Homo sapiens: one gene and its partners. The protein of the gene in region 2 interacts with the protein of the main gene of each other region in a biochemical or structural test. Each region holds a gene or a part of one and is shown on either strand. Other genes may lie near its edges. The genes, in order: STAT3, MYOD1, EP300 and CREBBP.

What was found.
Region 1: the proteins of MYOD1 (region 2) and STAT3 form a complex in vitro, tested with the Homo sapiens proteins (one study listed by BioGRID).
Region 3: the proteins of MYOD1 (region 2) and EP300 form a complex in vitro, tested with the Homo sapiens proteins (4 studies listed by BioGRID).
Region 4: the proteins of MYOD1 (region 2) and CREBBP form a complex in vitro, tested with the Homo sapiens proteins (4 studies listed by BioGRID, with this or other methods).

The regions. Positions count from the first base shown.
Region 1 is NC_000017.11:42,385,430-42,393,330, forward strand, and holds the start of STAT3 (signal transducer and activator of transcription 3), read right to left. Parts: upstream 3,014-7,901; 5' UTR 2,850-3,013; intron 1-2,849. UniProt on the Homo sapiens protein: Signal transducer and transcription activator that mediates cellular responses to interleukins, KITLG/SCF, LEP and other growth factors. Once activated, recruits coactivators, such as NCOA1 or MED1, to the promoter region of the target gene.
Region 2 is NC_000011.10:17,715,560-17,722,576, forward strand, and holds MYOD1 (myoblast determination protein 1), read left to right. Parts: upstream 1-4,011; 5' UTR 4,012-4,223; coding exon 4,224-4,853; intron 4,854-5,342; coding exon 5,343-5,421; intron 5,422-5,695; coding exon 5,696-5,949; 3' UTR 5,950-6,577; downstream 6,578-7,017. UniProt on the Homo sapiens protein: Acts as a transcriptional activator that promotes transcription of muscle-specific target genes and plays a role in muscle differentiation. Together with MYF5 and MYOG, co-occupies muscle-specific gene promoter core region during myogenesis.
Region 3 is NC_000022.11:41,144,581-41,151,603, forward strand, and holds part of EP300 (histone acetyltransferase p300), read left to right. Parts: intron 1-2,158; coding exon 2,159-2,236; intron 2,237-3,256; coding exon 3,257-3,366; intron 3,367-4,457; coding exon 4,458-4,595; intron 4,596-5,180; coding exon 5,181-5,618; intron 5,619-7,023. UniProt on the Homo sapiens protein: Functions as a histone acetyltransferase and regulates transcription via chromatin remodeling. Acetylates all four core histones in nucleosomes. Histone acetylation gives an epigenetic tag for transcriptional activation.
Region 4 is NC_000016.10:3,870,694-3,877,716, reverse strand, and holds part of CREBBP (CREB-binding protein), read left to right. Parts: intron 1-7,023. UniProt on the Homo sapiens protein: Acetylates histones, giving a specific tag for transcriptional activation. Mediates acetylation of histone H3 at 'Lys-18' and 'Lys-27' (H3K18ac and H3K27ac, respectively).

The DNA of each region.
Region 1 (7,901 bases), on a different chromosome or scaffold from region 2:
ACCCGGGAGGAGGAGGTTGCAGTGAGCCACGATCATGCCACTGCACTCCAGCCTGGGTGATAGAGTGCAACTCCAACTCAAAAAAAAAAAAAAAAAAGTATATATTTGTTGATTTGCACATCACCTAAGAAAACCATAAGCTAAGAAGGTTTGGACTCAGGCGTCTGGAAAGTTGGTCACCACCTCTACCCCACCTCATATCTGAATGTCAAGAGACACGTAGAGGCAGAGAAGTTAAAGCAACTTTCTAGAGACAGAAATGACCACTGATCAAGCCACAATGCACTCTGGTTTAAATGACATTTAGGTCATGACTGTCCTTAATCTAAAACAAACCTAGATTAGTATTTCTTTTCATTAGTAAATAGCTAAATTCTGATGGTAAATTATGCTGACCAAAAACAGTTCCTCACTTCCCAAGTTAGACATAGCAATTAGAAAAATAATCTAAGCAAGCTCCATTTGTATTTCTTTTTTCACCTGTTTATTGAATATTTACCTCCCATGAAGTCTTTCAGCCTATTGGTGGTATTTTACTGTTCAGATATATGTTAGAATTTCACTGATACTTACTGGGCGCGGTGGCTCACACCTGTAATCCCAGCACTTTGGGAGATAGAGGTGGGCAAATCACAAGGTCAGGAGTTCAAGACCAGCCTGGCCAATATGGTAAAACCCCGGTCTCTACTAAAAATACAAAAATTAGCTGGGCGTGGTGGCGCACGCCTGTAGTCCCAGCTACTTGGGAGGCTGAGGCAGGAGAATCGCTTGAACCCAGGAGGCAGAGGTTGCAGTGAGCCAAGATTGCGCCACTGCACTCTAGCCTGGGCAACAGAGCAAGACTCTGACTCAAAAAAAAAAAAAAAAAGAATTTCACTGATACTTTTCACAAAATATACAGAAGGAGGCACAAATTCCACCACTATGGCACTCTGCTGCGTTGGCCAAGTGTCTTGATCCTTTGGCCTCAATTTTCTTATCTACGATATTAGGGTAATTGTTATGTGAACTACCCACCTCACAAGTCCTTTGTGGGTTAATTCATAACTGTGCTGTGGGTATTTCTTTTTCTTTCCTTTCTTCCTCCTTTCCTTTCTTTCTTTCTTAAAGATGGGTTCTCATTATGGTGCTTAGACTAGACTCTAGACCCAATTCCTGGCCTCTCACCATGTTGCCCAGACCAGACTCAACTCCTGGACTCAAGGAATCCTCCCACCTCAGCCTTCAATTAGCTGGGATCAGAGGTGTGCACCACCATGCCTGGCACTGTGGATATTTCTAAGTGATTATTCTTCTCAAATGAACTACATAAAAAACAAAAGATTCATGAATTTACTAATGGTTCTTTGTGATGGATGTGCTAATATAGAGACTAAAATCAAGGCTCCAACCTCTAAAACATTTTTTTTTAAATTCCAGACTTGTTTCCCCATCCCACTGTGCAAACTGAACAAAAACTGGGCTAGCACTCCTGTCTGGAACATGTAATAAGGAAATAAATGTGCTGACTCAGAGAACACAGACATATTTAATATAAAATAAGATAGAAAACTGGCTGAACCAAGTCATAACACAGTCTAAATCCACATATAAAAGATTGAGATGATTTTCTGCTTTGCTTTATTCAAGCCCAATGCTTTATCAGCACAGCCAGCCAAAAATTTACAACCCATACACAGACTATGTAAACCTTTAGTTGCACATACAGTAAGACCAGCAGGTACACACTATACACATTTTTAATTAAAAAAATGACTAACCACTGATTTTGTCACCACACTTAACAACGACCTGATATGGCACAGAGTGATGTGTACCAAACATGGAAATACCAACTTGGGCGACGGTTTGAATCTTGTTAACTTCAGTGCAACCACACCCCCCAAATGCATGTAAAGTTTGCACACATGGTTTTTTCAAGGCCAGCCTGTCTTTGTTTCCCTCTCCTCTGCATTTACCCAAGATCTTGGCTCTGAGACAGAAAACTCCCACTCTCAATTGGTTCATTCCGTCCTATGCAATTAAGCAACACCACAATCCAGTAAATGCAATGGCTCAATTATTTATCTTCTGGCCGACTTTACCAGGTATTTGGAAAAGGACAATGTCAAGAGGTTTATTTCTCTCTCTAGAGCTGGCTTGACGGGTTGATGGGGATTTTATTTTGTCTTTTTTTCTCTTTTTTACAAGGCGGGGACGTGGGGGGAGCATAATTTAACCTAGAAAAAGATGCGAGGGAATTTAGAAAGAGTACCGGTCTGTCAATTTCCCTACAGGAAACTTGATTCTTATGCAATAAAGCCTACCCACGACCAGCCAGCCCGTAAGGCTGCAGGCGACAGACACACCTATTCCTGCCTCCAAAAGGGCACAGCTGTCTCCTGAAGGAGCGGGAACAGGGCAAGCGGAGGAAGTGGCTCAGCGGGAGCCGCCGACCGGGCGGGGAGGAGGCGCTTTCCGACCCCCCACTCGCGCCGGTGATCCCCGTCGGCGTGACAGTCGCTCCGGTGGCCGGAACGTCCCCAGGGCCCCAGGGAGCAGGAAATCGGGGGACTGTCCCTCACTCCTGCCGCCGCAACCGAGTGCGCCCTCGCCCCACGGTGCCCCCTCGAGCGCGTTCTGTTTCTCCGAAGAACGAAACTTCCCTCCAGCGCCCCGAGTCCCTTCCGAGGCCCGCTCCTGTCATCCCGAAGAGTCTTCCCTCAGGGCGACCCTCCGCGTCTCTTCATCTCTCCCGGCCCCACTGCAGCGTCCATCACAACATCCCCAAGGTCCCAGAGGCCCCCTGCCGCTGCGGAGCCCCCGGGTCCCCAGGCCTCCCCAACGGCCCCACCCTGCACCCCCTTCACCTGTTTCTCCGGCAGAGGCCGAGAGGCCGGGGCTGCGCGTGTGCCGGGGACGGGCGGCGAGGCTCCCTCAGGCCGAAGGGCCTCTCCGAGCCGAGGGGGAGAGACAGCGCCAAGCCGGGGTGCCTGTCCAGGATCCGGTTGGGGCTTGTTCCCTCGGCTGCGACGTCGGAACCCCCGGCTCCCCCTCCCAGTCTGCGCCGCCGCAGCTCCGGAAACCGCTGAATTACAGCCCCTTCAGCCAATCCTCGCCCAGCCCCAGCCTGGCCGAGGCACGCCGTCATGCATAATTCATGAAAGGCCAGCTCGTTCGGCCACCCAGAGGTCCCAGTGCGTGTGCGGTACAGCCGAAGCCCCGCCCACTGACCAATGAGGAGAGCAGCTAGGAGAAAGGGCGGAGCCAAGAGGAGACTGATACGCCCCTGTGCTGGCTGTTCCGACAGTTCGGTGCTCCTCCCTCCGCCACAGCGAGGGAAGAGCCGAGGACTTGGGCACAGAAGCCCGGGGGGAGGGAGGGAAGATGACCGGAATGTCCTGCTGAAAACTCAGCTGAGTTCCTGGCAGTGCGTGACGTCAAGGCACTTTAAATGCCCCTGATACAGCTCCCTCCTGCCCGCTCTCCCTTTTCCCGGCCCTTGGCACCACGTGGTGGCGAGGTTGAGAGCCTCTTACCACGCGGGAATCAGCTAGTTAGATAGTCCCCAGGTATCTCCAGATCCTCTGGGGACCCAACTCCTGAATTGGGTTCTGGGGACAACAAAAAGAACATGGGTGACTCCGCCTGCTTTGAACTTCAGTTTCTGCGTGAGCAGGGACACACACACCCGGAAACATGACGTGGAAATAGAGTAATTACTAGAGTGCGTGGGGAGAGGGTAGTGGATTTAACCCCGTACTCCGTTCCATCACTTCAAGCATCAAACGCCGACCAGCTAGCCCATTGGCCCGTACAGGCGAATGCAGAAGACGGTGTATACGAAAGCTGATAACGTGTAGGGCTTGACATTTTTATGCGTCTGAATTGAAATACATGAAATGTTCTGCCTTTTTCTTTTCCACCTTGCCTACTTGGTATGCAAGTTTTACTGAATTGAAGCCAGTGGTTGATAGGAAATGTAGACATTTTGCCTTTCATAATAGAGGATGAACTTTGCATAATGGAGTGATTTCTGTGTATGTGCTGATACTATCAGGGTTTTTAATTTTTATTTTTTTGGGTCTTTAAAAATATGTTATTAATATTTGTGTTTGTTTAATACGAACAGGTATAAAGACAAAAATCTAAAAAGGACCCATTATCTCACTGCTCAGCTAACCCCTGACATATTTTTTTTCAATGAACCTAATACATGTTCCTGTTTAGAAAATGCAGACCGTTCAGAAAGGTCAAAAATATTAAATGAAAATCTTTCCCTACCCCCATCATTCCTTCTCCCCAAGGATAGCTGTTCTTATTAATTTCTAGTGAGAAAAATCAATGACTCTTAACCTTTGAAGGCAGTCACAGATCCTTCTGAGTGTTTGAAGGAGACTAGATTCTAGCCCCAGAAACAATACAAGGTTTTACTCACATGGTTCCCCAGATACCTGAAGCCTGTCTAAGTCTACAGATTCAGACCGCTCGTACCACCTCATATCCAATGAGGGACAGAGGCATCTACAGGGCAATTCATAGGGTCACTGGTGGTGAGAATTGAGAACCTCCTATTGCCCTCTGGTAGACACAGCTCAGTATGGAAATTGCTGTATTTACCTGTAGAGTGTGTGTGTATTGATTAGGCTGTTTATCTACACCACAGGACAGATATCCCCCATCTCCGCCTATAGTCTCTTGTAACTACGCTATCCCGTGCGGCCAACTGCCTCCCTGATAACATAGGGTCTAGGATTTGTTTAGTGATTTACTGCTTACAAAGGACTTACACACCTTATACACTCCCTGCCTGGTTTCTTTCTCACAATCATGAATAGCAGATAGGAGAGGCCATATTATCCGCTGATAGAAAACTAAAGACAACATAATATGACATTTTCAAGATCACAGAGAAACTCAGAAATATACCAGGTTCAGAGTCAGGTTTGGGGGCTTTACGTCCCATAGCTTTGTTCCATTCATTCAAACCCTGCCCTGCTTCTGACTTCTCAAGAGCTGGCCTCTGTTTCCCTCATTGGCCTCCCCACCAGTAACACATAAAATCTACCTCTGCGACTATGGGTTTGACCTGCAAAAATTCTCTTCAGCCCAGACACTGGCCTTTCTCCACAACCCCGCCAAATTCCTCTTGGCTAAATGCTGCAATTTCTGTCCCTTGGGCCACTGCCTTAACCACCTGATTATTCTCTCCTTATTCTATCCTATTCTTCCACTGGCTGCCAGGGACATCATCCTAAAAATTAAATAAATAAACATTCAGGCCAAGGCGGGTGGATCACAAGGTCAGTTCAAGACCAGCCTGGCCAACACAGTGAAACCCCGTCTCTACTAAAAATACAAAAATTAGGCTGGGCACTGTGGCTCACGCCTGTAATCCCAGCACTTTAGGAGGCTGAGGCGGGCAGATCACCTGAGGTCAGGAGTTCGAGACCAGCCTGACTAATATGATGAAACCCTGTCTCTACTAAAAATACAAAAATCAGCCAGTCATGGTGGCTTGCACCTGTAATCCCTGCTACTCGGGAGGCTGAGGGAAGAGAATCTCTTGAACCCGGGAGGTGAAGGTTGCAGTGAGCCGAGATCGCGCCATTGCATTCTAGCCTGGACAACAAGAGCGAAACTCCATCTCAAAACAAAAGTAAAAATTAGCTAGCCATGGTGGCACGTGCCTGTAGTCCCAACTACTCAGGAGGCTAAGGCAGGAGAATTGCTTGAACCCAGGAGGTGGAGGTTGCAGTGAGCCCAGATCCCTCCACTGCACTCCAGCCTAGGCGATAGAGCAAGACCCTGGCTCAAAAAAAAAAAAAAAAAAAAATTCAATCATGTCACAGTCGGCTTAAAAATCTCTATGGTTCCCTACTACCGGCAAGATAAAATCCAAGTTAATTTTTTTTTTTTTTTTTTTTTTTGAGACAGAGTTTCCTCTTGTCGCCTAGGCTGGAATGCGATGGTATGATCCTGGGTCACTGCAACCTCCGCCTCCCAGGTTCAAGCAATTCTCCTGCCTCAGCTTCCCAAGTAGCTGGGACTACAGGTGCCCACCACCATGCCCAGCTAATTTTTGCATTTTTAGTAGAGACGGGGTTTTACTGTGTTGGCTAGGCTGGTCTTGAACTCCTGACCTCAAGTGATCCGCCCACCTCAGCCTCCCAAAGTGCTGGGAGCCACCGTGTCCGGCCAATCCAAGTTAAATTTTAAAAATGCTGACCAGGCACAGTGGCTCATGCCTGTAATCCTAAAGCTTTGGGAGACCGAGGCAGGAAGATCATTTGAGGCCAGGAGTTCGAGATCAGCCTGGGCAACATGGCAAAACACCAACTTTACAAAAAATTAGCCGGGCGTGGTGGTGGCATGCCTGTAGTCCCAGCTATTCTGAGGACTGAGGCAGGAGGATCACTTGAACTTAGAAAGAAGTTCGAAGTTACAGTGAGCTATGACTGTTCTACTGTACTGTAGTCTGAGCAACAGAACAAGACCAACCTTGTCTCAAAAACAAACAATAAACAAAAAGCTGACCATTTAATTCAGTGCCATGGCTGGGCGCGGTGGCTCATGCCTGTAATCCCAGCATTTTGGGAGGCCGAGGCGGGCGAATCCTGAGGTCAGGAGTTCGAGACCAGCCTGGCCAACATGATGAAACCCCGTCTCTACTAAAAATACAAAAAAATTAGCTGGGCATAGTGGCGGGTGCCTGTAATCCCAGCTACTTGGGAGGCTGAGGCAGGAGAATCGTTTGAACCCGGGAGGCAGAGGTTGCAGTGAGCCGAGATCATGCCACTGCACTCCAGCCCAGGCAACAAAGTGAGACTCTGTCTCAAAAAAAAAAAGAAAAAAGAAAAAAACACCATAATTCAGTGCCATGCATGTGGTAGGAGCTCAATTGATGTTCCTTCTTTCTCCCTCTTTATTTGAATCATAAAATCCTACAGGCCCAGCACAGTGGCTCACGCCTGTAATCTCAGCACTTTGAGAGGCCGAAGCGGGTGGATCACCTGAGGTCAGGAGTTCAAGACCAGCCTGACCAACATGGTGAAAGTCTGTCTCTACTAAAAATACAAAAATTAGCCAAGCGTGTTGGCGGGCACCTGTAATCCCAGGTACTCGGTAGGGTGAGGCAGAAGAATCGCTTGAACCCAGGAGACAAAGGTTGCAGTGAGCTAAGATTGCACCATTGCAATCCAGCCTGGGTAATACAGTGAGACTCTGTCTCAAAAAAAAGATAAATTCCACAAAGGCTGACCTGAATCCCCCCTTTTCTAACCTAGTCCCACAAACCCTACTAAATGTGTTACCTTCCTCCAAACATGTCTACACCTTCTGCAACTTCATGCCTCTGTGGATAGTCTTCCTTCTACCTGGAATCTCTTTCCTCAGTCCCTACCTGAGAACTCTTACTCATTCTTCAAAGCCCTGTTGCAACATCACCTCCTCTAGGCTTCCTTCTATTCTTACTGGCAAAGTTAATCTCCTACCAGACTCCTTCGGCAGGTTGTTTCCCCATCTAGAATACATTCTCTACCTTGAATTCTAATAAATCCACATATTGGCCTACTTCCTGAAAAAAAACAATAATTAACATTGATTAAGTAATTACTACTATATTCCAGGAACTGTGCTAAGCATTTTACATAGATTATCTCATTTGATCCTCACCAGAACCCAGTGAGGGTAATATTATAATTCTTATTTTACAATTGAGGAAACGAAGACTGAGAAAGTGAAAGACTGGCTCAAGACTGGTCTCACAGCTAGAAACTAGGTGGAAACTCAGAATGAAAATCAGGTCTGGCTGACTCTCTGGCCACGTGCTAACAAACATCTTCCCCTAAACTGTGGGTTCCTGGAAACTTGAACCCCTTAAGCCCTGTCTTCATAATCTCAGCATCTATCATCTAGCCTAG
Region 2 (7,017 bases):
TTTGTAGTTTCTTGCTTATTCAGATTTGGGGAAAATCTAGATTTGCATAGATAAGTGGTTTGAATAGCTCACCTGGGAATCTCAGAGTACTCTTTAATTAAGTAGACTCATTCATTCATTTGCCCAAGAAATATTTATTGAGTGCCTACTATGCACCTGGCTTTCTGCTGAGCCTTGAGCAAGTAGGAAGAAGTATTTGTTTCTAAATCATCAATACAACAATTACTTACATTCCTCATTGTGAGTATAGTGAAAAAACAATAAGAAGACACATCGAGATGCCAAATCTCTCTATAGTATACCACTACAATATTGCAGCATGCCATGTATAATGCCCAGTTCAAGAGAACATGCCCCAGGCAGATGGGGTCTGAGCCTTTCCTGGGAAGAGCAAGTGTAATAGAACATGGATGTCTAATCATGTATGTGACTTCCCAGTTTTGAAGAAATTCAACCATCTTCATTAATGTCACAGTTCAAGACATTCAAATATATGCATAGAGATGCAAAGGGCGTGAGGCCACTCATTCATTCACTGGACATTTATCAGGTGCCTACTGTGTGACTGCCACTGTGATGGTTTTTGGAAATGTCATTGTGAACAAAACATCTTTGCCTTCATGGGGCTAAGTCAGTCATGAACAAACTAATGAAGAAGATTATAAAGAGTGGCAGTGCCTGGAAGGAAATTAACAGGGTGGTGTGAACCAGAGTATGGGGGGCAGTTATCTTAGAGGGAATGGTCAGTGATGTCCCAAGGAGGCAAGAAGATCTATTATATAAAATGCAGTCAATCTTGGGAAAAGCCCAGGGGATAATGCTATGAGTTTAGAGCAGCAAGGACAAGGCTCCAAGGCAGGATCCTGTTCAGAGTGTTAGAAGACAAGAAAGGAGGTCAGGCTAACTGGAGTAGAGCAATCAAAACGGATGGTGCCTCCAGGTGTAGTAAGAGACACAGGCTGAGGCTAGCTCATGCAGGGCCTGATAGGCCAGGGGATGGAGATGAGATTTTACTCTAAATGCAAGAAGCTGCTGGGGAGTTTGAAGCAGGAGGATGGCATAATCCCATTTACATTGTAAAGGTCTACTCAGGCTGCTATGTAACGAATGGATTATACTGAGGCTACAGAGGAAGTGAGGAGGGCAGCCAGGTTATTGTGGTCATCCAGAGCAGCAGTGTGACAGCTTAGTCCAGGATGGTGACACTAGGGATGGACTGACTTGAGACAGGTCTTAGAGGTAGAATGGACAGCTCTTCCTCATACTCAGACCTCTCCTTGGGAACTCCAGCCTTAAAAATCCCCCTGCCTAATCCACACTTCCATCTGGATATCCGATATGCATTTCAAATTTTGCCCAAACCTGGACACTTAATCTACCACCCACAAACCTAGTCTTCTCAACTCCATTCTTGCAGGAGTCATCCTTAGCTCCTTGCTTATCTCACTTCCCACATGCAATCGTGAGTAAATACTGCTAGCTCCATCTTGAAAACATATATCTAGAATTCAACCACCACTTTTCACCAGCTCCACTCACTGGGATTATTGCAATAGCCTCCTAATTGGTCTCCCTCCTTCTGCCCTTTCCCTCCAGTAACCAGCATGCTCCTGTTAAAATGTAAATCAGATAGTGATATTCTTCTCTTCCGCTCAAGCCCTCCAGTGAGATGGCTCAAGCCATCTCAGAATATAATCCTGTTTCTCTCTCTCTCACCCCATTTCCCACTATCTCTTTTACTCACCCTGCTGCAGACATATGAGCCTCCTTGCCATACTTTGAATCTGCCAAACATGGTCCTGCCTCAGGACTTTTGCACATGCTTATCCCTCTATCTGGCCCTACATATCTCCAGGTATCTGCTTCCAATTCTCTTCATTCAGGTCTCTGCTTAAATGTAGCAGAGAGGCCTTCTCTAATCACTCCATAATCTTCATCACTGTGTCTCCCTGCCTTGCTTTTTCTTCATAAGGCTTCTAACCTCCTGGCATCACATACTTCCTTGCTTATTTGTTCATTGTCTATCACCCTGCTTACATTGACAATGTAAGTGCCATGTAAGCAGAGTCTTGGTTTTGTTCATTGCTCTAGCCCCACACTTGGACTGGTACCTGCCACATAATGGATACCTAACAATATGTGGATTTCCGGGTGACCCCCTGCAGCTTGGGTGGGGTGAGGCCAGGACTTTGCTGCCTCTGCCAGGATTTAGAGTTACTGTCACTGCTGCTCCATGATGTAGACTTTACTGAATGAACAAATACAGGTGGGCCCTATGGAGTAAAGCGAGGTGAGTACTTCATGAAGGGAGACCTTCAGCACCACTACCAGCAGCAGAGAAGTGAAGAAGTTAGGACCCCAACAGAGCCCTCTGAGTTTTGTGGGAAGGGAGGACTTCTTAGGGCCCAGAACGGCCAGCTAGAATGCCTTCCAGAAGTTAGTGGGAAAGGCACAAAGATCACTCCTGCTTAAATTTCTGGTTTCCAGGAGGGGAGATCCAGGCAGGGATGTATGGCCAACGGAGATTCCTAGCCAGAGTGCTGAGAGGACTGTGTGAACTGCAGATTCAGGAAGAGGCTGAGAGACCCCCATGGGGGTGGCCGGTATGCTGAGGCTTGTATGGGAGCCAGATATCCCACATCCCATGGGGTGGTTGCCTCCTCCTGTTTCCAGCCTTTCCAGTGAGGCTGCAGGAAAGAGACACAGCTAAGGCCTGGAGACTCGTGGCACTCCGTCAGGGCATGGTACCACAGATGAGTTGTAAGCCTGCGGGACACAGCATCCAACTCTGAAAGCCCCTTGCTCGAATAACCCTACATCACCGCCTGAGGGCTTCCATATCCTTGGTCTCTTCAGACTGTCATCCCCACCACAATTACTCCAAGAAATTACTGTCATCCCCAAATCTATAACTGGAAACTGAGGCTCAGGAAGGAGACATGACTTCCACAAAATCACACAGTTGGGAAACTCTGGAGTCTGCACTCAACTGGTCTGCAAACCGCACTCTCGGAGACTTCAGGTGAGATGAGGTCAGGTTCTCAGGCCAGGTCCTGAAGTTTGACACCTTGGCGAAATGCACTTTCCTTGACTCAGCACCGCGAGTGAGGCGGAGCCAAGCCCCGAGCAGAAGGGTTTTCTTCCCAGCTGAAGAGGCAGCTCAGCCTAGACCCCAGGCATGGCACTGGACACCCCTGCTGTGGAAACGTGCAGATTTAGATGGAGGGGATTCCTAACCTGGGCAGGATCCGAGTTTGGAGAGATTGGCGCGAAGCTTTAGCAGCAATCTCCGATTCCTGTACAACCATAGCTGGGTTTCTAAGCGTCTAGGGAAGAAGGACTGGGCCCACGACCTGCTGAGCAACTCCCAGGTCGGGGACTGGCGGAATATCAGAGCCTCTACGACCCGTTTGTCTCGGGCTCGCCCACTTCAACTCTCGGGGTCTCTCCGCCTGTTGTTGCACTCGTGCGTTTCTCTGCCCCTGACGCTCTAAGCTTTCTGCTTTCTGCGTGTCTCTCAGCCTCTTTCGGTCCCTCTTTCACGGTCTCACTCCTCAGCTCTGTGCCCCCAATGCCTTGCCTCTCTCCAAATCTCTCACGACCTGATTTCTACAGCCGCTCTACCCATGGGTCCCCCACAAATCAGGGGACAGAGGAGTATTGAAAGTCAGCTCAGAGGTGAGCGCGCGCAGCCAGCGTTTCCCGCGGATACAGCAGTCGGGTGTTGGAGAGGTTTGGAAAGGGCGTGCCGGAGAGCCAAGTGCAGCCGCCTAGGGCTGCCGGTCGCTCCCTCCCTCCCTGCCCGGTAGGGGACCTAGCGCGCACGCCAGTGTGGAGGGGCGGGCTGGCTGGCCAGTCTGCGGGCCCCTGCGGCCACCCCGGGGACCCCCCCAAGCCCCGCCCCGCAGTGTTCCTATTGGCCTCGGACTCCCCCTCCCCCAGCTGCCCGCCTGGGCTCCGGGGCGTTTAGGCTACTACGGATAAATAGCCCAGGGCGCCTGGCGAGAAGCTAGGGGTGAGGAAGCCCTGGGGCGCTGCCGCCGCTTTCCTTAACCACAAATCAGGCCGGACAGGAGAGGGAGGGGTGGGGGACAGTGGGTGGGCATTCAGACTGCCAGCACTTTGCTATCTACAGCCGGGGCTCCCGAGCGGCAGAAAGTTCCGGCCACTCTCTGCCGCTTGGGTTGGGCGAAGCCAGGACCGTGCCGCGCCACCGCCAGGATATGGAGCTACTGTCGCCACCGCTCCGCGACGTAGACCTGACGGCCCCCGACGGCTCTCTCTGCTCCTTTGCCACAACGGACGACTTCTATGACGACCCGTGTTTCGACTCCCCGGACCTGCGCTTCTTCGAAGACCTGGACCCGCGCCTGATGCACGTGGGCGCGCTCCTGAAACCCGAAGAGCACTCGCACTTCCCCGCGGCGGTGCACCCGGCCCCGGGCGCACGTGAGGACGAGCATGTGCGCGCGCCCAGCGGGCACCACCAGGCGGGCCGCTGCCTACTGTGGGCCTGCAAGGCGTGCAAGCGCAAGACCACCAACGCCGACCGCCGCAAGGCCGCCACCATGCGCGAGCGGCGCCGCCTGAGCAAAGTAAATGAGGCCTTTGAGACACTCAAGCGCTGCACGTCGAGCAATCCAAACCAGCGGTTGCCCAAGGTGGAGATCCTGCGCAACGCCATCCGCTATATCGAGGGCCTGCAGGCTCTGCTGCGCGACCAGGACGCCGCGCCCCCTGGCGCCGCAGCCGCCTTCTATGCGCCGGGCCCGCTGCCCCCGGGCCGCGGCGGCGAGCACTACAGCGGCGACTCCGACGCGTCCAGCCCGCGCTCCAACTGCTCCGACGGCATGGTAAGGCCGGGACCCCAGGAAGTGAGGAAGTTAGGGCGGCGCTCGGGATATCAGGGACGCGTTTCCGAGGGCGGGGAGCTGGCCTTGCGGGAGGTTTGGGCCAGGATCCTTCCCGAGAGAGAGGACCCCCTTGTCCTGGGCAGCTGTCACTGGGGTAGCCTGTTTTGGAAGTGTGCGGGCAAGCGTTCGAGCTGCCCCATTGGGGGCGCTATTAGAACACTGCAGCGCGAACGTGAAGATCTTTTTCTCTACTTATCCCTACTTCCAAAATGTAAATTTGCGCCCCTTGGTGACTGTCCGCCCTTGGTTTGGCCCTGCATGTTGCAGACCTCATCTCCTACCCACCCGTAATTACCCCCCCAACCAGGACAGGTCTGGGCCCGGAACTAGAGCCTTAGGCTAGAGTTAGGGAGGGGGCGGCTACAGGAATTGGTGTTCGGGCCTCGAGCCGTCCCGCGGGCCTGACTCAGTCGCCCTTGCTGTTTGCAGATGGACTACAGCGGCCCCCCGAGCGGCGCCCGGCGGCGGAACTGCTACGAAGGCGCCTACTACAACGAGGCGCCCAGCGGTGGGTATTCCGGGCCTCTCCCTGCTCGCTCCTCCTCCTTCATGGAGCTGTCCTGGCCTCTATCTAGGACGCTCCCACCCCCACTCACACACGCCTATGTCCTGGGAAGTGGTGCAGGAGATGAAATACTAAGCAAGTAGCTCCCTGTCTTTTGGATTGTCCCGGACTCTAACTAAAGTCCTCAGTTTCCAATCTGTCTCAAAGTACTGGGCCCGGGGGTGGGAGGCTTGTCGCGGCCCCACCCCTGCTTACTAACCGAGCCCTCCCCGCGCAGAACCCAGGCCCGGGAAGAGTGCGGCGGTGTCGAGCCTAGACTGCCTGTCCAGCATCGTGGAGCGCATCTCCACCGAGAGCCCTGCGGCGCCCGCCCTCCTGCTGGCGGACGTGCCTTCTGAGTCGCCTCCGCGCAGGCAAGAGGCTGCCGCCCCCAGCGAGGGAGAGAGCAGCGGCGACCCCACCCAGTCACCGGACGCCGCCCCGCAGTGCCCTGCGGGTGCGAACCCCAACCCGATATACCAGGTGCTCTGAGGGGATGGTGGCCGCCCACCCGCCCGAGGGATGGTGCCCCTAGGGTCCCTCGCGCCCAAAAGATTGAACTTAAATGCCCCCCTCCCAACAGCGCTTTAAAAGCGACCTCTCTTGAGGTAGGAGAGGCGGGAGAACTGAAGTTTCCGCCCCCGCCCCACAGGGCAAGGACACAGCGCGGTTTTTTCCACGCAGCACCCTTCTCGGAGACCCATTGCGATGGCCGCTCCGTGTTCCTCGGTGGGCCAGAGCTGAACCTTGAGGGGCTAGGTTCAGCTTTCTCGCGCCCTCCCCCATGGGGGTGAGACCCTCGCAGACCTAAGCCCTGCCCCGGGATGCACCGGTTATTTGGGGGGGCGTGAGACCCAGTGCACTCCGGTCCCAAATGTAGCAGGTGTAACCGTAACCCACCCCCAACCCGTTTCCCGGTTCAGGACCACTTTTTGTAATACTTTTGTAATCTATTCCTGTAAATAAGAGTTGCTTTGCCAGAGCAGGAGCCCCTGGGGCTGTATTTATCTCTGAGGCATGGTGTGTGGTGCTACAGGGAATTTGTACGTTTATACCGCAGGCGGGCGAGCCGCGGGCGCTCGCTCAGGTGATCAAAATAAAGGCGCTAATTTATACCGCCGTGGCTCCGGCTTTCCCTGGACATGGGTGTGGGATCCGGAGGAAAATCCGCAAACTGGGCCAGCTGTCCCTCAGCGACGCCTGTAGGCGGCAGGCGGATTGCAAGGAGGAAGCCTGCTGCCTGGGGAAGGAAGGAGGGGTGCAAATTTCTCCAGTACGTGAGGAAGTTCCTCTGACCTTGACTACATTACTACACACGTCCGTGGCTCTTATGGAAGGGTACACAGGTTGATATGAGTATTTTTTAAACCCATGTCTGAGCTCGCCCCCTAGATATTCTGATTTAATGTTTCTGCCCCATATACCCAGGGCCAGGTATTGGTATTTTTTTTCAAAAGCTCCCCAAGTGATTCTGAAGTTCATTCAAGGCTGAGAATCATCCCCTCCATATAAAGTGAGTGAACCCAGGTGTGATAACCAGAAGAACCACGGGAAGGTTGT
Region 3 (7,023 bases), on a different chromosome or scaffold from region 2:
TCCTGAGCTCAAGATATCCACCCACCTCGGCCTCCCAAAATGCTGAAATTACAGGTGTGACCCACTGCGCCCAGCCTTTAAATATTTATCTTAAAAAATAGTATCAAGATGTTCCTTTAAATAATTCATCAAGTTTCCTTAAAATGACAAGAGCTGCCTCATGGAGCAATAATAGATACATTCGTATCTGCATCATATGGGGCAAATGTGGGCAGTAGGATTGCGGTTTTATTTTTAAACCATTTTCATTTGATTAGTCTCAAATACTTAAAAATCAGAAGATTTTGCATTTAAAAAGTCTGAATTTCTGGCTGCTTTAAAAAAAAAAGGACATGTCTGGCAGACTTGACCCCCTTTCTCCTACAGTGACACCTGTCTATAGCTGCACTCATGGCTGACTCTAGAAGAGCTGTGTTTTCTCTCCACTTCAGTCCTCACCATTCTCTATTGTTTTGGGTACTTAAAACAGTTTTACTTGGTATTAGCTGCTTGGCACTTGCCATTTAGCTTGGAACACCTATCCATATTGTTGACTTGAAAAAAAAGTTACTCATATCTTAGGTGAAAACATTGTTTTGTAGATAGTGTGCGTGAATACAGATATGTGTGGGGAGGAAGAGGAAAGGTTTATCTCAAGGTCATTTGTTGGATCCTGATTCATTTTTCTATTGATTTTTAATTTTTATGTAATGAGCATGGATTATGCATATACTTCTTATAAAGCTTGCAGAGTTACAGATAAAAGTTTATATGAATAAATGTTGAGCATTTCCTCTCTCAGTTTTGCTCATTTACTAAAGGTTGAAATTTGTCTGAAGGGATGGACATCTCCTTAGAAGAGCAGCAGGTCTTCCTCTCCTATGCCTGAGGCTTGAATGTACAGCCCTTGATGGAGGGTATGGCCAGGGTGGAGCCAGGTCACTACAGACATCTGTCCTTTCCGAGGGTGCTGTAAAAATATTTTCTCTGTGCACTATGTTGAAAGTACTACACTAGAGCATGTGCAGATAATCCAGGAAAAAGACCTTAGAATTTATGTATTTATATTTTAGGTTTTTTTTGAGACGGAGTCTCGCTCTGTCGCCCAGGCTGGAGTGCAGTGGCACGATCTCAGCTTACTGCAAGCTCCACCTCCCGGGGTCATGCCCCGGGTTCACGCCATTCTCCTGCCTCAGCCTCCCGAGTAGCTGGGACTACAGGCGCCTGCCACCACGCCCGGCTATTTTTTTGTATTTTTAGTAGAGACGGGTTTCACCGTGCTATCTAGGATGGTCTCGATCTCCTGACCTCGTGATCCGCCCGCCTCGGCCTCCCAAAGTGCTGGGATTACAGGATATTTTATTTTTTTAAGAATTATTTCTGTTTTTGTATTTAAGAGGTACATGATATGTAGTGTGGTATAATATGCATATTATTTAAAATCAATGTTCACAGTTTATGTGCATAAAAACGTTGTGCTACATGATCAAATTCGGCCACCATTAGACATGATTCATAGCTATTATCCATGGAGATACTCTGTTGCATGCCAACCAGACTCAGACTTTGTTAAACAATAACATATTAAATGCTATGATGGCCTCAATTTTTTTTTTTTTTTTTGAGACAGAGTCTTGCTCCATCGCCCAGGCTGGAGTGCAGTCGTGTGATCTTGGCTCACTGCAACCTCCGCCTTCCAGGTTCATGCGATTCTCCTGCCTCAGCCTCCTGAGTAGCTGGGATTACAGGTGCCTGCCACCACGCCTGGCTAATTTTTTTGTATTTTTAGTAGAGACAGGGTTTCGCCATGTTGGCTAGGCTGGTTTTGAACTCCTGACCTCAAGTGATCCACCCACCTCAGCCTCCCAAAGTGCCAGGATTACAGGCGTGAGCCACTGTGCCTGGCCTATAATGGCTTCAATAGCTTATTTTTCTATCAACATTGAAAGCACCCGGGCTCATAAAGGAATACCAACAAATCCACTTGGAGGCATTTTTCTGTATTCCAGAAATAACATTTTCTTCAAGCTTCTGTCTAGTTCAGAGCTTTATTTTGTGATTCATACTCAATTTTCAAAGGTATTATTAAAAATATTTTGTGGGGTTTGTGTGTGCAGTGAGTTTTTGTTTGGTTAAGGGAAGATGGTGCAAAGATACTTATTTCTCTTTTTTACTCTAGATGGCCCTCTACCTGACCCAAGTATGATCCGTGGCAGTGTGCCAAACCAGATGATGCCTCGAATAACTCCACAATCTGGTAAATAGTGAAAAAAATTTTTTTATTTTAAAAGAATCCCCGGTGTACTGCAAGATAATACTTGCTACCTGAACACCCGCTTTATGCCAACAGCAAGTGTCATGATTACCTGCCCATAGAGGAAGAGGGGGTGAAGAGCAGGTTGGCTGGCAGATCACAGGGCAGGTGACATTAAATGATCAAGTATCCATTAAAAAACAACTGCAGGCTGGGCATGGTGGCTCACGCTTGTAATCCCAGCACTTTGGGAGGCCGAGGCTGGTGTACCACCTGAGGTCAAAGTACGAGACCAGCCTGGCCAATGTGGTGAAACCCTGTCTCTACTAAAAATACAAAAAAATTAGCCGGTTGTAGTGGCACGGGCCTGTAATCCCATTTACTCTGGAGGCTGAGGCTGGAGAATCACTTGAACCCAGGAGGCGGAGTTTGCAGTGAGGCGAGATCGCGCCACTGGACCCCAGCCTGAGTGACAGCAAGACTTCGTCTCAAAAAAAAAAAAAAAAGCAGATTGTAAAATTTGTAAAATTCAGTTTGGAGATCCTGTTAGTTGATAATGTCTGTTTACTGCTACTGTGAATGAGACAGATTTATTTATACTTAGAAGGTTGAAAGCCAGTTTATTAGTCCTGATAGAATCAGGGCCAGGTGCGGTGGCTCACGCCTGTAATCCCAGCACTTTGGGAGGCTGAGGCGGGCAGATCACAAGGTCAGGAGATAGAGACCATCCTGGCTAACACAGTGAAACCCCCGTCTCTACTAAAAATACAAAAAATTAGCTGGGTGTGGTGGCGGACGCCTGTAGTCCCAGCTACTCAGGAGGCTGAGGCAGGAGAATGGTGTGAACCCAGGTGGCAGAGCTTGCAGTGAGCGGAGATTGCGCCACTGCACTCCAGCCTGGGCGACAGAGCAAGACTCCGTCTCAAAAAAAAAAAAAGATACAGAATCAGACATAAGAATTCTATCTTTTATTATTCAATTTCACAAAGGCATTCAGATCTAACATTTTGCTCATATTCACAGGTTTGAATCAATTTGGCCAGATGAGCATGGCCCAGCCCCCTATTGTACCCCGGCAAACCCCTCCTCTTCAGCACCATGGACAGTTGGCTCAACCTGGAGCTCTCAACCCGGTTAGTTTGACGTCTTTGGTAATCTCTTTGGCCTTTACCTGGTATTTTGAAAATCCTGTTTGTTCCTACTTTATAAATTCTCACAGTCATTTAAACAGACCATAACTCCTAGTTCTTCTGTAATTCTTCTGTATTTAACTCTACTAGAAAGCTGACCAAAAAACGAAAACAGCCAGTCCCTTGTCCCTGGAGTGTCAGTGTTTAGTGGCCTGCATGCGTTTTCACGGTCACTTCTCTTCCCTGATGTCTGTCTTCCCTCCTCCAGGCAGAGAACTGTCTTGCAAGGTTGATGGTGCGTTTTTGCCTGGTTCTTGAACTCGGAGAAGAGAGACTAGGCTTCTCCTGCTCCTTATGCGAACTCTTAACCAGTCCATCTCTCTACCTTGACCCTAACCCTCCTGCTGCCCTTTAGAGTTAGCTGGTGCCTCTGATTCTTGACCCTTTTGGGGGTTCCTGAGCATTACTACTTCTCACTAATCTGCCATTTTCAACAGGGAGTTCTGTCCTTCATTTTAACCTATAAGACAGATGGTCTTAGCTTATGAAGTTTTTGGCCTTTGGTACTCGAGATTTCTTTCTTTAAGGCCTGAATTTGTGTAGGGTAATTTTGGAAATGACATGTAACAGTGCTAGAGCATTTGTGGACCATGAATGCTACCAGATTCTGCTACAACTTGTAAGATTTTCTTGTTTTTACATATTATGGGTCTTAGAATTTGTGTTATTACATCACTGACATGACCTCATGAAATTGTGATTAACTCTCCTCACTTAACAGAGCATGCAAAGAAAATTACCTGCTATCCTTGTGCTAGGCATATTTGTGTACCAAGAGAATGTGTGTTCCATCCTCTTACTATTTCTTGGAGTAGGCCTAGGTAAACTGTGAGGCTATTTCTCTTTATCTTGGCACAAGAGTCAGTTGTTCTACAACTTTCTTCCTTCTCCTCTTCAGCCCTCTTCACCTATACTCCTGTCTTTGGCTTTTCTCTACTTAATAAGCCTGACGTTAGGAGCATTTGATGATTTTAGTTATAGTAGAATAACTATAATGAAGCAGTTTGGTGATTTGTGTTTTTTTTTTTTTTCAGCCTATGGGCTATGGGCCTCGTATGCAACAGCCTTCCAACCAGGGCCAGTTCCTTCCTCAGACTCAGTTCCCATCACAGGGAATGAATGTAACAAATATCCCTTTGGCTCCGTCCAGCGGTCAAGCTCCAGTGTCTCAAGTATGTCTCATAAGTGGATTTTTCACTTATTTTTGATTCTTGAAACTTCTCTTGATGTAGGTTTTTATAGGAGAGAGTGGCAGCAAATAGTGGGTGAAAACAGATGATTTTTTAAAAAATAACAATTTTGGACTTAGGGTATTCTGAACATGAAGAGATTATTCTGTGACATAGCAATGGTGTTAATTGTTACAAAGTAGGAAATAATTTAAATGGATAGTTTTAATTGTTTTTACTAGTGAACACTTTAAAATAAATCTTAGAATTAAACACAATGTAGAAGGAAATCTGGCTGAAAAGAGCATAGGCAGGCCCTAGAGCACTCTGCACTCAATTCTGCCATTTTTCTGCGGTGGCTGAGGCCATTCTGCTGAATGGTTTGAAGTCTCTTTAGTTAAGTACTATCTTGATGGTGCTGTCCAAAGATACATGCCCAGTAATAGGGTATTTTACACATTTTGAAATAGACACATTGCTACTCTTTGTTTAATCAGTTTGTGTCCTAAATTTATATATCATGCCTATGTAAGTATTTCCTTAATTCTGTTCTGAATTGCTGTCTTGTTATGTTTTTTATTTTAACAGGCACAAATGTCTAGTTCTTCCTGCCCGGTGAACTCTCCTATAATGCCTCCAGGGTCTCAGGGGAGCCACATTCACTGTCCCCAGCTTCCTCAACCAGCTCTTCATCAGAATTCACCCTCGCCTGTACCTAGTCGTACCCCCACCCCTCACCATACTCCCCCAAGCATAGGGGCTCAGCAGCCACCAGCAACAACAATTCCAGCCCCTGTTCCTACACCTCCTGCCATGCCACCTGGGCCACAGTCCCAGGCTCTACATCCCCCTCCAAGGCAGACACCTACACCACCAACAACACAACTTCCCCAACAAGTGCAGCCTTCACTTCCTGCTGCACCTTCTGCTGACCAGCCCCAGCAGCAGCCTCGCTCACAGCAGAGCACAGCAGCGTCTGTTCCTACCCCAACAGCACCGCTGCTTCCTCCGCAGCCTGCAACTCCAGTAAGTAGAGATTTGGATTTAGGCAGAATCATTAGAGCTATACTGTAGTATTATATTACTTCTGGGCCATTTCCATTCTCTTTTGCTTTATCTCTTACTGTTTTCTCCACAAGTAGAATGTAATCTATTTTTCATTAGGGACTTTTGTATCCTGTTTTGCCTTCCTGTGATAGTACCTATCGTAGCAGGAGCATAAAGATTTTATTTAGCTCTGACTTTGACCATTATGTTTCATGTTGTACCCTGAGGTCTGAAGGTACGTAAAGGGGTACGACAAGGGGACACAATCCTTCTCCTTATTTAGTATATTATTTAGTGCAGCACATAAATTTTACATATATTTAAGGAATCTTTTTCAAACAGTTTGAGCCATAAAACCTAGAGATTGAATTTAAAAATTGCAGATTTGGACGGGCGCGGTGGTGTACACTTTTCATCCTAGCACTTTGGGAGGCTGTGGCAGGCAGATCACTTGAGGTCAGGAGTTCAAGACCAGCCTGGCCAACATGGTGAAACCCTGTCTCTACAAAAAAATAACAAAAATTAGCCAGACATGGTAGCGGGTGCCTGTAATCCCAGCTACTCGGGAGACTGAGGCAGGAGAATGGCTTGAACCTGGGAGGTGGAGGTTGCAGTGATCCGAGATTGCGCCACTGCACTCTAGCCTAGGCGACAGAGTGAAACTCCGTCTAAAAAAAAAAAAAAAAATTGCAGATTTATGAGTCCTTGTGGCCCAAACCAAAGTTTAAAAATAAGATGAGAGAATTATAGACCCAGAACAACCTGTAGCTTCCTTGTGAGAGGTTGGTTATGTATATAATAAAAATCCAAATTCTCATCTAATAGTTGAATCCTTATTAATAGAACTTTTTTTAAGGGTTTAGAAGCTTCTACTTTGATACCGATATTAATATATATCGGTATCCAATAGTTCTCAGCCATGTTGATGAACTGAGAAGTTCCATGAGTCACAGCCGTTTTATAAAGTACTGTACTTGACGGATGGCTGGTTCATCGTGGCCTCTGATAGACAAGGAAGGACAGAATGAGAGAGGAACCAGTGGATCTGCTTGATTTTATTCTTTATAAAATCAAGGATACTTCCAGAAAATACTGACTTCTCATTAAGAGATTTCTTATGACAAGCCTTAGGATAAAGATAGGGAATGCCAGTTTATCTCATTAGAATCTAGCGATTCAAAACAGCCACTCTCTGGGACATCATTATATTTATTGTCTCCTTTTCTGTACCTTTGAAACTTTCTCTGGTGAGAAGGTAAAAACAAGCCAGTCTTTCTTATTTTCTTTCACTCATTTCTGTATAAATGTGAGCTCCTCTGAAGCAGACATCTTTGAAATCCCCACACACTGCCAGATAATGATAGTTATCAATGAAATAGTTGCT
Region 4 (7,023 bases), on a different chromosome or scaffold from region 2:
TAAACAAGGGGCTGCTGGGCGCCATGGCTCATGCCTGTAATCCCAGCACTTTGGGAGGCGGAGGCTGGTGGATCAACTTCAGGTCAGGAGTTCAAGACCAGCCTGGCCAACATGGGGAAACCCCATCTGTACTCAAAATACAAAAACATAGCCAGGCATGGTGACATGCACCTGTAATTCCAGCTACTTGAGAGGCTGAGGCATGACAATTGCTTGAACTCGGGAGGCAGAGGTTGCAGTGAGCCAAGATCGCGCCACTGCACTCCAGCCTGGGTAATGGAGTGAGACGCTGTCTCCAAAAGAAACGAGGGACACTTTGTCTGTTGTAACTGCTCCACTAAGAAATTGAGTAATGAGATGGACAGAGATCTTAGGGATGTATTTTAAACAAATAAATGGCTTGAGTTTTTACATTAAATACATTCAAAAACTGAAGGCATTTGGTTAGGTGGGACAGACCTGAGAATAACATTCTTGAGGAACTCAATCTTATTTTAGTGACGGGATGTGTCTCTGAGGCTCCCAGGGGAAAATTGGGCCTAGTGGAGCAGGGTGTGTGCCCGGTGCATGTGATCAAATTTGAGGGAGGGGACCTCTGTCTAGGAGCTGAGGGGTTGAAAGGAGGAGGAGCCCTTGGCAGCCTGAGAAACAGGATCTACTTGGACTGCAGTGCATGTCTGTAGAGACTGGCCTGTGGGGCCACCAGTGTCACTTAGATGTGTCTGTGAAGGGTGGCAGTGAGCTGAGAGAAAAATGCACCCGACATTGGGGAGCTGCTCAGCCAGGGTGCTGCTCATCTGGGGGCATGGATGTTGCAAACAGCACTCCCGAAGGTCATGCAGCACCTCAGAGTGATGAATGTCACTGCCACTGATGACAAACAAGTTGCCGAAGCCTGGGAAGCTTATGCAGAGATGATGCAGAAATACGGAATGTGCTGCGAATGAGGGTAGCAAGAGAGAAACGGTACCTTTCACCCCACTGAAGCAGCAGCCCTGGAGAGGCACAGAATTTGATGGCCTCAGATGTTAAAGTAGCATTTTCTTGTATTATGTAGAAGCCTTTACACTTTCTCATACATGAGGTCTTCCTTTACTTGGCACCCTTACAATAAGTGGGGACTTTATATTACCGGTATATAGTTAGTTGGGTGTTTTGGAAACTTCTTTATTTAATATGTCCAAGTTAAAATAGCATATTGTGTCTTTCAACATCAGAGATTCATGATTTAACAGTATAAGACAAATATCCAGGCAAGCAGTAGACTTTTGTTTTTTGTTTTCTGGGTTGTTTTTTTTTTTTTTTTTTTTTTTTTTTGGTCAGCTTTATTGCAAAATTTGCACACAACAGACTGTTTATAAAGTTTTTTGAAATTGCAGGCCAGGGTGGTGGCTCATGCCTATAATCCCAGTGCTTAGGGAGACTGAGACAGGAGGATTGCTTGAGGCCAGCAGTTGGAGACCAGCCTGGACAACATAGTGAGACCCCATCTAAACAAAAAATTTTTTTAATTAGTTGGGTGTAATAGTACAATCCTGTAATCCCAGCTATTCAGGAGGCTGTGGCAGGAGGATCGCTTGAGCCCAGGAGGTCGAGGCTGCAGTGAGCTGTGATCATGCCACTGCACTCTGGCCTGGGTGACAGAGTGAGACCCTGTCTCTGGGGGAAAAAGGAAAAGAAAAACTACATTCTGAAGATTGAACATAGCTGTGTTTCATCCTGTGCTGTATAAGTGGCTCTAAGCAGTTGTGATTACATTTTATGACGTGAATCCTTTTAAATGCAATAGGGAAGCTTATTTAAAGAAAGCTGGTGGCGAATATGGTTGTCAACCAAATGGTCTGTTATGTATGTCTGGTACTTTATGTATCAGAGTGCTTTTCTCCACGTCACCTCAGTTTGATCCTTACAGCGTCCTGTGAGGAAGGGAAGATGCTGTTACTGCTATTTTCTAGGTGAGGAACTGGACTTGAGAGGTGATACAGGGTCAAAACCAGATCCAAACTAGATTGTTAAAGTCCGTAGCTCTATATATTTATTTTCTAAGTCTCTATCTGTAAACAATGCATTTACTTGAATCGACCCAGGAACCTGCCAAGCTTAGTGAGTTTCAGTAGCGGCCTTCCCGCACATGAATGAGATCACTAAGGGGGAGGTTTGTAACCACCTGTGGTGGGGGCAGCCAGGAGTGTATTCTTCCTCCTGGGTTAGGGCGTCCCCCTTTTCCCTCTGGTTCTGGTGTTATCCTCAGCGTGACGTGTGTGGGCTCGTGTTCCTGTTTACCTCAGGGAGAATGAGAAACGGTTATGTTACCCCATCAGTGAGTTCTGGCTAAGTAGGAATAAAAGTTGTCATAGAGACTTTTAGGACTAGGACATTTCATGACCGTGCTTCGTTTTTGAATAACTGAGAGGGGTGAGAGCGGTGGCCCCATTCAAAGGTCGTCAGGGATGAAGGTAGGCAAGGACAAGTCATGTGCAGGGCGCCTTAGAGGGCCTTCAGAAGATGGAAAGTCGCTCCTGGCTGAACATTCAGATTTGATTCTGTAAACAGAATTGAACATAACTTACAAAGAGACTGAGTCCTGCAGTTGGAAGTTGATGCTTAGATTAGTCGCCTGTGTTTTCACAGCTTCTAAGTAGTGTGTTGTAATTGTGTGGCAAAGTATGTGATTACCTGGGGGGTCCATAATTGCTGACTTGTGTTTTTACTTGATGTATTTGAAAACAGTTAGGAAAATGATTTTGCCAAAGTGTGTCTTACCTTAGTTAAGATGAAATGTACCTTATTGTGAGTTTCTGAAGATTGCAAAAGCTTGTCAGTTTAGTTTTTGGGGTCCCATTAGTGAGGGCACCCCTCTTTACCTTACTCAAACCAGCTCTTCACATGTATTCCAAGAAACTAGAGGGCATGCTAAGAGGTATTTCTCAACAAATGGTTTGTGCTCAGATGCTGTTGCTTGTAGCTGAGGAATTTGACTGCAGACTTTCCCAGAGCCTTGGTGTCCTGATTGGGCACTGTGAGAGAGGGGCTACAGTTGGACCACTCTCAATCCTGTTTGACGCTAGAACTCTTTTTAGCCTATTATGGGTCCGCAGACTTCCTCTGCAAAGGGCCAGAGAGCACGCATTTGGCTTTCTGAGCCATATGGTCTCTTGTTGCAACTACTCAAGGCTGCCATTTCAGCAAGAAAGTAGCCATAGGCGAGTGGGCCTGGCTGTGTTCCAGTAAAACTCTAGTTGTAAAGACTGGCATCTGAGGACTTCGCCCATGGGCTGCAATTTGGTGACTGATATAACGTGGGACTTCATTCTCTGAGCACCCGTTGGGGAGCACTGGCCTACCACGGCTGCACAGACAGCTTTAAGGAAAACAGCAGCAGGGCAAGTTTTCTGAGCTGCATGATGTGGAGCCCGGGAGAGCCCAGGTGAGCAGCAGGCTAGCTTGGGTCTCCTGTCTTGGAGCACTTCAGAGCTTAGCAGGGCCCTCTCTCTCTGTCTTTTTTGTTCCTCTGTAACAGTTATATGGATGACTTGATTTAAAATCAGACGAATTTATCAGAAAGCCTGGTGACCGGTTGCATTTTTCTTTGTTCTTTTGCTTTTTGTTGACCCCAGTGGCCCACATGGCATTTCTCGTCCGTCTTTGTCATCTCAGGCTCTAGGCTTGCTCCCCTTCCTGTGACACCAGAAGGTGAGCGTCAGTAAGAACTCCAGAGCCTTTCCACGGCCCTCTTCCCAGCACTTCCCTCCCCAGGGGCAGTGCCTGACACATAGTAGGCCCTCAGGAAATATTTGAGGGAATTAGTGAAAGAATTATATAGTATTTGTCCCTTAAAGTTCTTATCATTTTCTTGTTAAGGTTTTACTTTCAAGCAGATTGCCACCTATCTTCTAATTGGGTCTGTTATTTGCTTCCGAGTTCCGTACCCATGGGCTCCCACCCGGCCACCAAACCAGCTGGCCTTAGGAGTGCTGAGGCCAGAGCATGTTTGGGGCAAGTTACATCAGCTCTCTGAGCTCAGAGTTTCCTCATCTGTAACATGGAGATAATAACAATTCCCATCTCAGGGTGGTTATGAGGGTAGCCTGAGATGATGTGTGTCTGGCATATCCGCCCAATGGGAACTGACACTAGCGTTAACCAGGGACGTTGTCGTACCTTGTAAGTCCTAGGACTTACTGGGAGTGCTAGTCTGATTGGAGCAAGACCTGTTTCTCAGCAGTTCTGGAAAGGACAGAAGCCATGTGTGCTCGTATCCACAGAAACCAGTGTGCAGGCACGCGTGTGATAGTGTAGCACCTCAGCAGATACATAGCCGGGAATTCTGTCATCTATACCATTGACTCTGTCTCCATTTTTTATTGTATTTTTAAAAATAGGAACGTGATGGCCATGAAAGCTTAAAATTACGAAAACTTAAATGGTGTGTGTTCTGAATTATTTTTTCTTTTAAATCAAATCAGGATGTACACTGAAAATTATTGATAATTTTGAAGCATATTTCATGGACTGTTTAAGCAGCAGACAAGTATGTGATTCTGTTTGTTTACTGTGTATAATTTATCTTGAGGTACCTGTTAAGCATTAGCAGTGTACACAGGATTCTGATAGATGCCTGTGAGTACTTAGAACCATCTTGAGAAGATGAAACCTCGAGGCAAAACTTAAGGAAAGGGTACAGAAATGCAGTCAAGTGCAAAAACTCTGGAACCAGAAAGGGTGATCTGAATAAGGCTTCATTTACTCCCTCCCCTGTTTCCTGAGTGTCCCCGTGTGCAGAAGTCCAGGGCCGCATGCCCCAGTGGGAGGCAGGCCCTGGGATGGTTGAGGAGCCTTGGGCTCCTGTGACAGCTCTTCTGCTGAGCCAGCACAGAGCCAGGAGTTGGGGAAGCCTGCCTGTTTTCCATGCATTCCTGGTTGTTGGGAAAAGCACCCTGACCATGACAGTTTGTTTCCTGGGGTATCGTTGTAGGCCCATGGCTTGCTCACATCTGAGTCCTCTTCTGGTTGTCCCGTCTCTCCTAGGCTCTGAAGCTCCTGGCCGTGCCGTCTGCTTTTTAGCACATGCGCTCAGCGTTCCCTTTAGTCCTCTCTGAGGTCTTTTCCTTGCAGTGCATCCCTCCGGATACACTCCTTGCTTTAACTGGAAAAGGATGCTGCTCTTCTCAGTCAGGCTCAAACTTGGCTTTCGGCAAAATTCTCCTATTGCATGAGTCTTTGATGCAGAAGTGTAAGCCTTGGGAGCAGTGCCTGTGGGGGCTTTTGCCTGTTCTCCTTTCCCTGGGGCCGTGCTCTGCTGACAGGGGTGCTACAATAGGCCACGAGCAGAGTCCCCGGGGCGTCCTGGAGTGGTCAGGTCTTTGCCATTTGAGCTGTGACTTGAAGAGATTTGAGCAAGGGCACACAAATCAAATTGGGCAAGGCTGTGTGAAAGGCATGGAAGTAAACAAAAGTGGCCCCTCTCTTTTTAAAGTTTTTTTTATTAAGTTCCTAGACAATATAGGCGGTGACTGTGGCTGTATTTAAAATACTGCCTTTAGGGTGTTTTCTGGTTCTAAATTTAGGAAGCAAGGCTATTTTTGAGCTCTGTCTCTAAAAGTTGAATTCCTTTTAAAACTTACCCTTAAGAAAGATTTGGATATTATCCCGTGTGACATTTTCCCCGGTGTTTCATTTCCATTAATCAAAAGACTGTTTAGTTGAACCATTGCTAAGAATAGTAAAATCTAATGGGGAAAATAATTCTACATGATTAAATCTGACTTTACTTTCCCATTTCTAGTTGTACTGTCTGCTATTGTTTGAAAATGTCTTAATTTGCCTTTCTAATATGCCTGTACTATATTGTATACAGTAGGTATATTTTCCAGTTGCACCTAATTCAACCTTTCGAATTTGCATAATCTGTGGTAAGGAGAAAAAGTAGTTGTGTAGTGGAGTTGTACAATTCTGTTGTAAAGCAAATCTTTTTATAATTCACAAGCTGCTTCTCCTCCCCCTAGTTTGGATTTTTCTTATTAAAACTGCACCACCTAAACATGTTTTAACTTTATGGTTAAAATAACCAGTGAAATAGAAAAATAAGTCACTGTTCTGTATGATAACATGTAGAGAAGGCTTGTACAACATTTAAATAAGGAGATTTGGGTATTTGATTACAAACTGAATGAGGACATTCAGGAGCTATAGAAATTTATCAGGTAATTAGGGTTTGCTTAGACAATTATAGACTCTACGAGTTTGACCCAGTTGCTTTGGATTAAAATATTTTGAGTATTTGTCACCTGATTAAAAGTAGAACCTTCTAACTGTGAGTCACAGTTGAAGGAAATGTCAGCTTTTTATACGGGGAGGCGGTCAGTGTGGTGCTGAGGAGGGAGCCCTGGCTCCTGCTCAGAGTAGACTGTGAGTCCCAGCTCCCAGCTCGGCAGCGCTGTGACTTGGGCTGGTGACATCACATTTGAGTTTTGCAGGGTGGGGTGTGTGTGTGTGTGTGTGTGTGTGTGTGTGTGTGAGTGAGAGAGAGAGAGAGAGAGAGATCTCTAAAAGGGGCTTTTTACCCTGCAGTATTCCATTTGTTTCTTTTCTTTCTCTTCTCTCTTCTTTCTTTCTTTTTTCTTTCTTTCTTTCTCTTTTCCTTCCTTCCTTCCTTCTTTTTTTCTCTTTCTTTCTTTTCCTTCCTTCCCCTTCCCCTTCCCCTCCCCTTCTTTACATTACTTTTCTTCTTTCCAATGGGGTCTTGCTTGCCCAAGCTGGTCTTGAACTCCCATCCTTCAGCAATCCTGCCTCGGCCTCCTGAGTAGCTGGAATTACAGGTGTGAGATGGAGCCACTGTGCCTGGCTCTACTTCTGCTTACTTTGATTATCTTGGTACATGGGGCTACTAGGGTGCCTGGCATATAGCAGGTTGAGGCAGCTGTTTTTATTGTTTAATTGTATGGGAAAATATTAGCCATCACCTACTTCTTGGGCCAGTGAGGACTAAGATGATGTAGCCTGACCCGGAATCAGGAGGCTTCT